Regions from separate parts of the Homo sapiens genome. Here regions 2 and 3 are each linked to region 1. The links come from fine-mapping of genetic effects on gene expression. A gene starts in region 1. Each other region holds a variant in brackets. All regions are shown on one strand. Distances are from middle to middle.

Region 1 (4,189 bases):
TTCCTCTCTTGACTCTTGGGCGTCCCAGGAATTTTAACTTTTCCTCGGCGTAAGTGTTTCTCGCGCGGACCCCTTGCAGGCGCAAAGCCTGGCTCGCTCTGGCCTCCTGGCTTGCCCAGGATCTAGGCAGCCACGGGGAGCAGGGTGCAGCTTCCCCTCGCCTCCCCGGGACGGGGAAGAGAAGAAATCAGGAGGGAGGAGGTACTCAGCCCTCCTGGGTGCACTCCCAGATGTTTTTAAGTTGGCGTTTATTAAAAACAAAATGATGCTAAAATGCAAAATAGGCAACGTGGAGGTACTCAGCTCTCCTGCGTACACGCCCATGTATCTCTAATGTGACATTTAAGAAACAAAACAATGCTAAAATGCAAATTAGGCGATGTAATACCCAGAATGAGCCTCGTTTGACAGGCCAAACTGAGATTTAATGGAAAGCTTACTCATATCCCCACACGGAATTCATTCTTTTAGGAACTTAAAAAAATTGTGTAATTTTAAGTTCCACCACTGTCATAACGAACACTCCACAGTAACATGCAGTGGAACAATGGACACCCCCATATCGCATTGTGTCAGGTAATTATGAAGTGTCGAGGCGCGGGAAGGAGAAGCCGGGAACGTCAATGTGTCCTCTGCAACGTGTGGGAGCGCTCAGAGCCGCGCGTATCACAGAAACATCATCCAGTCGTCACCCCCAATGCCTCAACCCAGGGACAGGGACAGACTCAATCAGACCTCGGCCCCAGGCGTGGCAGGAGAGGGCCAAAGAGGGGACTTGTGAGCGCAGAGGGAGCGAGCACCGCTCCATGGAGGGCAGGCGCTAGCTGGGAAGTCGGGAGGAGAAAGTGCAACCAGGCGGGGAGGGGAGGATCCCACCGGGGCGTGGCGAGGGCGTTCGGGGTCCGGGTGAGCGGGACCCTACGCGGGACCGTGCGCTCCCAGAAGCTCCCACTCAGCCCAACCTTTTGGGCGAAACCCAGGACACCCAGATAAGGGTGCAGGCGGGGTCACGCGTAAAGCTGTTACTTTGAAGCAGGGCATAAGTGAGAGAGAGATAAAGAGAGAAGGAACAAGGGGAAAAAGAAATGAAGGGGCTGAAGGCCGAGATGTCCTACTTCTAAGTAGTTCTTTGAGAGGCAAAAGCTTCATTGCCATTGCAGTCCGAGGCAGCGCCGCGTGGAGGACCGGCCGGGCGGGGCGCGGGGACCTCTCCAAGGGGTCTCCAGCCTCCGCGCACTCTGCGGTGGCCCCCGGAGGGGGAAACTATTCTGGCAGCTCAGTGGGGGGAAGCTCGTCCGGGCTGTGGTTTCCTTTCCCCGAGACCCCAGCGTTGCACCCCCGAGGCGGCAGGCTCAGTCAACCCTCCCCGGGGGACGGCGGCCCTCTAGCCAGGCGACCTCAGGTCTCGCGACCTCCCGCCGCCCAACCTTCTCCTTTCACCCCCATTCATTTTTCCTCAGCGGCTCCTAGGACGGGCTCAAAAACCAACTCCACACGCAACCCAGCCCACCTCGCGGAGCTGAGAAGCAGGGCTGGGTTCCGAGCGGGCGCCGGCGCCCCTGGCGTGTGGCGGGGAGGTGGCGGCCGCGGGGGGCGCCGCGAGCCGCCCGTGCCCGCCGCGGATGAACAGGCGGCTGCGAGCAGCCCCCGGAGCCGCGCAGCATCCGCGTATCCAGTGACGGTGGAAGCCACGCCCGCTCGAGAGCCGGGGGGCTGTCCTCGCCCCCCCCACCTTTCCCCTCCCTCCGACCCCCTCCCGGCCGCGCTCCCTCCCCTCCTCCCGCGCCGGCCCCCGGCCCGCCCCCGGCTCGGCTCGCGGGAGGCGCTGGGCGCCGGGGCTGGCGCGCTCTCCCGGGCTCACACACAGCCGCGCACGCACGCCCGGGGCCGCTCTCCGCGCCGGCCCTTGCTCCCCGCGCCCATGCGGACGGACCGAGCGACGGAAGATGGCTGACGACTCCACGGGGCCCCGAGGATGCGGCCCGGCGGCGGCGGCGGCGGGAGCGGCAGCGGCAGCGAGGGCGGCAGGGGCAGCGGCAGCAGCGGCGGCGTTGGCTGCGGCGGCGGCGGCGGCGGCAGCAGGAGCCGGAGCGACGGCGGCGGCATCCCCGAGACTCTCCGCACTATCCTTACCCGTGACAGCCACTGACGTCCTCCGCCGCTAGAAGAGACCCCGCTTCTCGGCGCCTGCCCTCCCCCTCGCGGCTCGGTCCGGCCCCGCCAGCACCGCTACCTCCGCCAGCCTCGCCACCATCAGCACCACCTCCACCGCCGCCGCCGCCGCCACCACCACCGCCGGCGGCGGCAGCAGCCATTTCATCTCCACAGAAACCAGACACAAAAACATGGCAGAAATGGAGAAAGAAGGGAGACCTCCCGAAAATAAACGGAGCAGGAAGCCGGCTCACCCAGTGAAAAGGGAGATCAATGAGGAGATGAAGGTATTTTTTGATCTCGGGGGCCAGGGAGACTGAGCTCTTTCTTGCGCCCGCTCCCCGTGGGCCGTGGTATGGATCTGGGGGGTACCGGGGCGCGCTTGTCAGTTTCTGTAGGATGCCCAGAACGGCTCCGCTCCTCCTCCAGGTGTAAAGCAGAGGCCAACTCGAGGGCTGCATCCCCGAAATTGTTGCCAACCTCAGATTTGATGAGGGGGGACCACATACTATTTAACCTTACGAATCCCAGGTTGGCACGGACGCGTTTCAGGGCGAGGGCACCGGGGACTCGAGCGGCGTTGGGCAGGGGAAGAGGCTTTCCCAGTGGACGGTGCAGTTTCTCCCCCCTTTTTGAGAATCATCCTCAGGGTCCCTCCAAAGTTAGGAGCCTCCTGGCCGGGGCACCCCGGAGAGAGCTCTATTCCACCCCTCTCCCCCAGCTCACCCTCCTGCTCCTCAATCCCGCTTCCCCCCAACCAACCAGCTGCGACGGCGTGAAGAGCCCGTCAGTGCCCGGCGAGCTGCGGCCCGAGAGGCGCGGGTCTGGGCACGGTCCTGACCGCTCTCCTCGCCCGCCCCCGCCCGCACCTCACCACTGGCAGCCTCCGCCTCCCGCTCGCCTCTGCCTGCCTCACTTCCCAGCCAAGCAGACCCCGGCCAGCCCCGCTGGAGGACAGCTGTCTGAGGGGCGGCCTTTGCAGGGCGCCTGTCCATTGTTCGCTAAGGCCGGCCCGGAGTCCTCTCGGCGAGGCTGGGCTCCCCGCCAGGCCAGCGGTGCACCAGAGGTGGAGAGCGCAGCAGCCTGGCGCTCCAGCTGTTCGCGTTAGAGCAATTGCACAAGAGCACCGCTCAGCTCTGGACCCCCTCGTTGCCCCCCACCTCCTTATTTTCCATGAAGTTGCGGCTTTTGCCTGGGCGAGGGTTTTATTCTGTGTTGATTTCACGAGTCTCTATTGATATAAAACAATTTATTTATTTTTCTGCGAGCCATCAAAAAGTAGCAGGTTTGCATTTTGCGGTCTTCTTGGTGTTCCCCATCTTCTGCATGAAATCCTTAATACTACCAGGTGGCTTAATACTACTACTTGGCCAGTTTTGGTTCAGTTTGTATTTAAAAAACAAACTGGATGAAAATGGTGTGCAAGTAAGTCAAATTTATTGCGCTTTGACGCTTTCTTCATTAGAACAAGCATTTTCTATCATAGCTCACGCTTAGCAGGGGACGCATGGATATATATCATATATGTATGCGTACCTAGGTGCATATGCTTAGCTTTACTTCTCAGAAATGTCAGAAGCAACCTAAATATCAGAATTAGGGGTTTTATTACTGGATAAGGAACTTAGTACCTGGAAGCATGAGGTGCAGCATGAGTCCAACGGAGAGTTAAGGGAGATTTGCCTTGGAAATCAATGCTGTTTCTTATGGTGGAAACCACTGTTGATTCCAATGATGGACAGTTTTATTTTATTTTTTTTAAGACCGGTAGAAGTTGTTGTTTTTTGATGGGAACAAAATTCAAACAGTCCATAATAACCATTCTTCCTCACTTACCCTTACCTCCTGTCCTGCATTTCCAGTTTACTTTTGCATTTCATTTTAGGTTGGGGGTGGGGAAGGGGGAGAGAGGTGAAAGCCACTAGGAAATCACAAGGAGCTCTGGCCCTTTAAAACGCTGCCTAATGTGATCTATATGGATGGCAGCTTTTAAGTTTCATAGGTTCTAGAATTACAAATTAGCTAATTTTAATCA
Region 2 (4,189 bases), 170 kb after region 1:
GTCCTCCCAATGGGCATTTGACCTCCTCTTGCTCTTGCTAAATTCATGTTATAAACACTCCAAGCAAGCTTCCAGGTCTCTTTGTGGCTCCATTTCTTCACTATAAAATGAGGAAATGGTACTGTATTATCTCTGGGGTCCCTTCAAGTCCTACATTCTATCACCTCTCTGAAGTTATTTGTTCATTGTTCTAAGAATAATCTCAACAGTTGTAAAGATGTTTACAAGTCCTCTGTCACCACCTCACCTTAGCCAAATTTTACCCATTCACATTTCTGACAGCCTCATTTATTGGCAGGAAGAAAAGGTGCTGTTTTGGGGCATGGCAGAAGAGAGGCGCCTGACCCACTCATGTGATCAAAGTGTGTCGAGCGCCCACAGCGGGCCAGACTCTGAGCTACGAGTTGGGTGTAGAGACACGAGCAAAACAGACAAGCCCCTGACCTCTGGGGCTTTACCATGCAGTTGGCAGACTTCTAAGTGGCTGCTCCCAGAACTGACTGAGTGGCCTCAGGAAGCTCTATTTCAAACCAAGTGACTGGCGGCAAATGAAAGAAGGCTGCAGGTATCAAGAGGCAGAGCCTCATATCTCGGTGAATGTTGGGATGAGCATTCCCCAGAAACTGACTTTCCTGGTGGAAAATCCTGTTCAGAGCCTCTGCCCTGGGACCCCAAGGCTCTTGGTTGATTTATTTTCTTCCAGTCCAGTGCTACTGTTTGTTTTGGATGTGAAGAGATGTGAATGGCTCACCTTTTACAGGCAAGACCCACACACGGAGAAAAGCAAGCATTTCTTCCAGCTTAGTTGCCTTTGTGGGAAACTTCTGAAGATAGGTATATGTGTCCATGGTAATTTTCCACTTGCCAAAAAGTGAATCTATTGGCCCTCTTTTCAGCAAATACCAGAGCTGAGACATGGGGTTACAGGAGTGAGGTCAGGAGCTCCAGGGTCCTCCGTGACCTTGCCTGGCTTTGGAGTGACCTTGGGTGACTCAAAAGACCTCCTGCTGGGGCTGGATGCGGTGGTTCATGCCTGTAATCCCAGCACTTTGGGAGGCTGAGGCAGGAGAATCACTTGAAACTGGGAGGCAGAGATTGCAGTGAGCCAGTTGCACCACTGCACTCCAGCTTGGGCAACAGAGCGAGACCCTGTCTCAAAAAAAAAAAAAAGCCTCCTGCTGGTTAAGCATGCAGTCATGTGGAGGGGGAGGGTTGCTGGGTTGCAAAGGATGCTGTGGTCTTTGGGTGAGGGCGTGGTGTACCCTACTCATTATGGTATTCCAAAAAGCGACTTGAGTTTCATTTCCTCACACAAAGCTGGCAGGGCTGACCTGAGCAGACCGTGAATGAAACTCCTGTTGAAATCACGCTGTGCTGCAGCGGTTCTGGGGCTCATCCTAGGTCTGCCCTGGCGGCTGGAGAGTGTGCTGCTGTCTGACTCATGCCTGGGTTCTCCCCAGCTGGGCGGAGGGAGGGGGATCGGTCCAGTGGATTCTGACAGCCCCTTCTGCTCTTTTTCCAGGAACGTTCACTCACAGGGTACGCTCATGGAGAGAGGGCGCAGAGCAAACCATGTCACGCCATCCAATGACACCAGCTGGTCAGCTCACCACCCCCTCTGGCTAAAACTCAAGCAAATAAAGCCGCTTCCTGTCATTAAGCATCTCAGAGGAAGCAGCCCTCCCTCGATGGCCTCTAGCCCAGAGAAGCCCGCGCATCTTGGACCCACCAAGCAGGCCCAGCCTTCCTGCTGCCACCATCTCTGCTTCTCCCCAGAGGAACTTAG[G/A]GATTTCACCCCTGGCTTTTAAAAAAAACGAAATACCGACAAGCCACAAGGACCAATGTAGGTATTCTCCCCGCCCCATCTTCAAGGCTCAGCGACTGAGGCTGGAAGATGATATGGATTGGAACACAAAAAATCTTTTTTTAATCTTTTTAAAAACTGCTGTGGTTTTGCTGCTACACTAAGAATTGTGATTTGCATTGTACGGTTTTGGACCTATATTGTTCACGTTTTGATGGCGGAGAGGGGTGGTCCTGGAGGCCCAATGCTTCAGAGTCATCTCTGTCCTGCCCGGGATGCACTTTTAAATGAAGAGTTAGAATATTTTATTGGCTAATATACTTTTCTTGTTATTTTTACAAAGGCCACCTTTATCCTTTTTGATGCCATATTTTCAGTGTTACACTTTTATGGCTTTTAATTTTCGATTTGACAGATGTAAGAAGCAGCATGAATAGTTTATACTGTGGTTTTTCAGAGACTGAATGCCAAGAGAACTCGGTAAATGTTTATTCTTCTCAGCTTTCTCTTTAAATTCCCCTAAATAGCGCCCCATTTGGGAACAGAGCAAGAGTGTTGAACTGAAGACCAAAATGCCCTCAAGGTGTAAAATAATCCGAGGGGGAATATTTGCTGGGCGTCAGGAAAGACTCAGATGAAATTTCAACCCTGATGGTTTTCGGTGATCCAGGAAGTCAGTGAGACAATCTCTCTATATGCAGAGCCCTTTCATGATAATTAGAATGGTATGGACAAACCAATGAAAACAAGAGGGAAAGTGAGAAAGATCACCCATGATTCTGTTTCACTGTTTGCTTTCTCCTGTCATGGTTAAGAGAAATGTGCAATTCGATCCTCAATCAGTGGGTGGAGGATAACAGGGTAGATTCACTTGTGTGCACTTGTACAGTTGTAGCTGCGAGTCCAGAAGTCCTCTAGAGCATGTGTACTGGCACTGAGTTGGTGAGACAGTTGTGGAGTATCCCATTCTGATGAGTACAGAAAAAAAAAGAAAAAGAAAAGAAGAGAAAAAATTAAGAAAAAAATCAAAAAAGGAAGAAAACTAAAAAAAAAAAAAATCAAATCACCTTGTGATTCAGTGTATCTGTTTACTAACTCAAATAAAGCAATTGTTCCCTCTGGAGGGGTCCAGGTGCCCCCGCCCCACAAGGCCGCGGAGCCTCAGCAGGAGGGGTGGCGAGTTGCGGGTGGGCAGGGCCAGGACGGTGTGGCGCCAGCCTTGAAGCACCACGGCCCAAGGATGCGGTGTACATACTGTATTTCTAGATTCTCCTTTGTACAGAGTCACTTCACAAGTCAAGCTACTGTTTTACAGGTGCTCCTTATTTATTAGAGCTGTGAGAGCTTGGGGGACACACCTGGCGAGCAAGCTCGCTTTTTAAAAATGAAATTTGGGGGCAGGGGAAGGGGAGGCGGGAGGGAGGGGAAGCTCGCAAGCCCGGGGAGAGATTTATAAAAGTAAACAAAAGAAAACCTTCCAGCAACAAATTAAAAAATAATAACAAATCAACCCCAGCACCAAACCCACCCAGGCAGGAAGAAGCCGCCCCTCCTCTGGGGCCATATTTTTCTGCTGGGTCACAACATTCTCCTCTCCCTGACTGGTGTCAGATTCATCAAACAAAAAATAAATCTCGAAGAAAAAAAATGCACTTACATGTGCTTATTTGGCTTTTCTCATTATTATGACTACTGTTTTTTTTTGTTTTTTGTTTTTTGTTTTATTACAGAGGTGTTCATTTTTCTCCCCCTGGGAAACATTTTAAAAAATAGAACTAAGGAGTTTTAAAAGATGGTAAGCTACTGGGATGGCACTGTCTCTTCCTGACCTGCTAGACCACGCTTGTCTGCAGACAAGAGCCCACTCCGTCCGTTCCAGGGCCTGCTTCCTAACCATGCCCATCACTGACAGCACACAGTGCATGGGAAGTGAGTGTTTAGGCTGTAGACCCAGGTGTGGTGTCCCTTCCAAGTGCTCTTCAAGTCCTGATCTTTTTTGGCTCCAAGGGTTCAGGCCTGAGGTTCAAGAAGCACCATCAAATGGAGGCAAACATGCTCCACGGGTTCCACTCACATCCACACACCATCTCACCCCACTGACTAGAGAGACTTTTATTTCAGCCTTATGTGAATGGGGTGGGTCCGTTTGGCTCTTTGATACCTGAGTTAAATATCAGAAAGTTCCTAAGGTGGAAAGTATGCTAATATCTAGTTCTAGTCATTGTAAATCTAGTTCAGTTCTCTTGTTCTACATATGAAAAAACAGAAGCCTAGAAAAGCAACTCGACCTGTTCAGAGTCTCGCACTTAGTTGATTTAGCTTCTCAAAAAAATGAATGTTCATTAAAATCTGAGGCACCACGAGCAGCTCCCTTGAAGTGATCAT
Region 3 (4,189 bases), 180 kb after region 1:
TTTCCTAATACTCAGGCACATGGCTTTTATGAGACGCAAACACGGCTTAGAACCTTGCCTTTGGTCTGAAGGCGGGTCATTAAGAGAAATCATTACATCGCTTTCCCTGTCTCTGTCTCTCTCTCCGTTTTTCTTTGGCTCCCTCCTGGCTTTTCCTTGGCTTCTGATTCCATCCCTCTTTTAGATTCTCTGTGCCTTCAGTAATTTATGTGCAAGATATTTTCCCAACCTCCAAATGTTTTTCCATTTGGCAAACCATGTCCCGAAGCCTCCACACAATGTGACTGTAGAGTTCATTTATGCTAGAGAACATAAGCTTGGTTAATGGACAAGCCTAAGTGGCCAATGGCAGTGACCCTGTGGGCCTGGGCCGTCAAGGACTGATCCTCGGGGCTGCCCCAGGGGATGCAGTGGAGGTGGGTGTCGGGGAGGAGTGTCTTTTCCAGGTTGCCACAGATGCTTGGCTTCGACCCTCCTTGTCTCCAAAAGGGAAAGAATTCCTTCCAAGCCCCTTTCTCGTATAGTTTTTGGAAGCTTCAGGGCACCATATGGAGAATCATTTCATGATCCTCCTGATGGCTTTTACGTGAGCAGCTATAAATTGGATGGTTTCCTTCAGGTCTGATATCCTGCAGTACCTGCCATGGATTGTCAGGAAAGTCACTGAATATGTTAGTCCTGTGCCGTTCTTTGGGGGAAAGAAGGCCCAGACCCCCTCCTGGGAGGGACCACTATTACTTTGAGAAATGAAAACTAGAGAAGGGGGTAGGGTGGCACGTGGTGCAAAAGCCTGGAAGCTCAGGAGGGTCATGTGCCCCAGTGAATTTTTCATTCCAAAATCTTAGATTAGGACTAAGGCAGGAGTTGAGGCTGGTGCCTCTTCTCAAATGCCATGCTCATTGGCTTCTCCCTTGAGGCTCTTAATAAGCCTGGCTGGGCGGGGCCACTCTGTGAGATAAAGATGAGGTTAATGGGCTGGGTTTATGTCCAGGCGCTCACAGGGTATAACTAGACAGCATTTGGCTTCTGAAATATGAGCTCTATTCATTGAGTAACTGGCACTTTTTCTTTCTAAACAGTTGCAATGATATAATACAACTCTCTCCGTTTTACTTCTTTAAAAGGTGCCACATGAAGGGCTTTCTCAACTCTTGACCCAGGCATCTGTGGATTTAATAAGCAAATCAAAAGCAAAGAGCCATCCTCATAAGAAAAAGGCTTTAGGCGAGTTTTTTAAGGGGCCTTCTTTCGCTTAGATAACCATTTCCTTAACTGAATTCCTTTGACCCTATACATCTGAGCCAGGAGGGCAGAGGTTGGTTAGTGTATTCTACTGGGCCACACATTAATAAGGAATGGAGCCCTTCAACTGTTTCCCAAGCATCTCTGAAAAAAAAGTCACAAAAATCAGAGTACTGAAGACTGGTTGGCTCTGGGAACGCATTCACTCAGATGTATTTTTAGGCTTTTGTTTATCTGTCTTGATTGATAAAGTAATGATCAAAATGCGTTAGAAAATAATAGCCAACTGGTGAGAAATGGAACAGTTGGAGGCAGCGCGGCAATGGAGGAAAGCATCGCAGACTCCCCCAGACTTTCCAGAGAAACCCCGGGAAAATCCTCTTCTCTTCTCCTTTCTCTTCTTTGGGGAGCTGATCAGGGCTCTGGCTTGATAAAGCCCATCCCCCACCCCCCCACGTCGCAGAGTAACTCATTAACCCCCCCAGAAAGGCTGCCCGAGTCCTCGTTTCCCTCTCCTCACCTCTCCTCCATCCCTCTTCGCTCCGAAGGCTGCCGCAGGCCAACCAGAACCCCAGCAGATGTTTGTGTTTTATGAGCCAAACGGGAGCCTGAAGGATCAACCAAATACCAGCCCCTCTGAGAGGGGAACCAGGCCATCTAACACGAGGAACACAGAAGGCCGCCCGTCCAGCAGGGCTGGGGCTTCCAGGGAGCAGAAGGAGGGCTGAATAATTAGCTGGCACAGCCTCGTGTTGGCCCATCGCTCTGTCCTTCTGAAGAGCTCACAGAGGCCTTTAATGGGGGCTCAGAGAGGTTGGAGAGGCCCTCTGTGAGTCCACCTCCCTGGCTGGCAGTCCTGGCCAGGATGGCCTCCTCTCATGCCAGAGCACCATGTGGCACCCCGACCGTGGTTCCTGGCACAGGAACGAGCAGGAGGGTAAGGACGGCTACCGTGGAACCAACTTGGAA[G/T]TGCCGTGCTGCTCAACAGCCACCCCCACCTCCACACCGCTGTAGGGCCACGGAAGAATGAACAGTGTGGGTGTGCAGATGGAAGACCAAAGTTTCTCTCTCAGCCCCGCCACTTCCTGCCGTGCGCTGCTGGCCGCATTGGTCTTTAATGTCTCCAAGGCTTGATTTCTGTCTCAGTGACATGGAGATGATGAGACCTACTCTTGGGGTTGCTTCCAGGGTTAGATGATAGCAAGTGTGCTGGCTCTGGGCCTGTTTGCTCTGAGATCCATTTCTCAACTTTCCCTGCTCTGCTCCACATGGCAGGGCCCTCACCCTGGCTGTATTCAGCTAATGGGAGATGGGATTTCTCTCCCTCTCTCTCTCCCTCAGCCACCTTCCTCAGTTCCCTCTGGAAAGCCCTTAGGAGCTGCAGCTCCCATGAAGTCTTCCTATGTTTGTTCCTTCAGCCTCAGGGTTTTCTCACTGTCCCCTGCCCAGCTTCTCAGCTCTCCATCACTGTGGACCCCCTTCCCTTCCTTGCGCTCCCCTGGCTGCAAGGGCCTAAGGTGCTCTCTGTTTTCCTGGCTGGGCCTTGGCCGATAGAGTATGTGAACATGTAAACGTGTCGCACACCAAGACAGAGACAGAACCCCCGAAGACCCCAGTCCATAAAGCAGAAGGAAGGACGGTGCAGCTCACCTCGTGTTTCCCACCCTGAGCATCACAACCTGGAGCTTAACCGTAGGTCAGGTGATCTATCTGAAACCATTCCCCAAGGGGTTCTTCAGCTTGGGCCTTTAGACAAACAGAAAAATGGAATAGCAACTATGTATGTTTTTTTTTAATCATATATTAGTTTCATTAAAAATATGGATAAAAAATATGCAGTGGGCTTCTGGTATGCCTTCCATTTATTCTTTGCTTTAAAAAAAAAAGAGAGATGGGGGTTCTCACTTTGTCACCTAGGTTGGAGTGCAGTGGCATGATAATAGCTCACTGCAATCTCAAACTCCCGGGCTCAAGCGATTCTCCTGCTTCAGCCTCCTGAGTAGCTGGGACTACAGGCCTGTGCCACCATACCTGACTAATTTAGAAAAACCTTTTTTGGTTGGGCGCGGTGGCTCATGTCTGTAATCCCAGCACTTTGGGGAGGCTGAGGCAGGTAGATCAACCTGAGGCCAGGAGTTCGAGACCAGCTTGGCTAACATGGTGAAACCCCGTCTCTACTAAAAATACAAAAAATTAGCTGGGTGTGGTGGTATATGCCTGTAATCCCAGCTATTCAGGAGGCTGAAGCATGAGAATTGCTTGAGCCTGGGAGGCAGAGGTTGCAGTGAGCCAAGAGTGTGCCACTGCACTGCAGCCTGGGTGACAGAGCAAAACTCTGTCTCGAAAAAACAAAAAACACCATTTTTTTTTTTTAAGGAAAGGGTCTCAGGCTGCCCAGGCTGCACTCCTTGCTATGGAACTATAGGCAATGTCTCGTGTGTCTGGACTCTCCTTCTAGGTTCTGCTGACCTTGTCTGTGTCTCCTGTTATTCCTGTTCCATACCAAGTAGCATTTTCTTGGGTTTTTGTTTTTTTTTTTTGTACCTATTCCCTGTTTCAGTGCATGTACAGGAAGAGTTGTCTCATCAGGTGCCACTAAGGAAAACTTTCTCCATCAAGCTGCCTGCTGTGCACGTTGCCTGGGCTTTGCCTACCCCTGGTGCTGCATCTGCCTGTGTTCTGTCTTCTGGTTCTGCTGTGCTGTGGGGGAGGGGACGCTTGTACTCCTCTCCTTTTGGCAGGAAGAGTCACTTCCACATTGAGGTCAGAATTGAAAATGGATTTCCCCGTTGGGCAGAGGGATGGAGGCCTGCACTTCCTGTGTAGTGTAATTAATCGCTGCCCCTTCCCTGCCTGCAGCCGTCCAGGCTCAGGGCCGGCCCTGATTAACCATTTCCTGCCCAACGTTGTGAAGGCTACGAAAGACCTGTGTGAGCTTTCGCATCCT

Evidence for each region. PIP is the estimated chance that this variant, and not a neighbour inherited with it, causes the effect.
Region 2: its variant is fine-mapped to the expression of SOBP in whole blood (TOPMed, PIP above 0.99). The same link has a PIP of 0.9 or more in blood mononuclear cells.
Region 3: its variant is fine-mapped to the expression of SOBP in whole blood (TOPMed, PIP above 0.99).

The regions. Positions count from the first base shown.
Region 1 is chr6:107,488,272-107,492,460 of GRCh38, forward strand. SOBP (sine oculis binding protein homolog) reads left to right here and starts at 1,846. Exons shown (of 7, transcript NM_018013.4): 1 at 1,846-2,441. The coding sequence starts at 2,346. RefSeq lists silencers at 2,076-2,125, 2,166-2,225.
Region 2 is chr6:107,656,685-107,660,873 of GRCh38, forward strand. SOBP (sine oculis binding protein homolog) reads left to right here. Exons shown (of 7, transcript NM_018013.4): 7 at 1,523-4,189. Among named protein-coding and RNA genes, the nearest start is that of SCML4, 170 kb to the right of the region's middle. RefSeq lists enhancers at 845-1,422, 1,171-1,220, 1,423-1,999, 1,461-1,650. The variant G/A (reference allele first, on the strand shown) is at 1,787.
Region 3 is chr6:107,667,013-107,671,201 of GRCh38, forward strand. No RefSeq gene overlaps it. Among named protein-coding and RNA genes, the nearest start is that of SCML4, 160 kb to the right of the region's middle. RefSeq lists enhancers at 1,494-1,994, 1,995-2,495, 3,859-3,918. The variant G/T (reference allele first, on the strand shown) is at 2,212.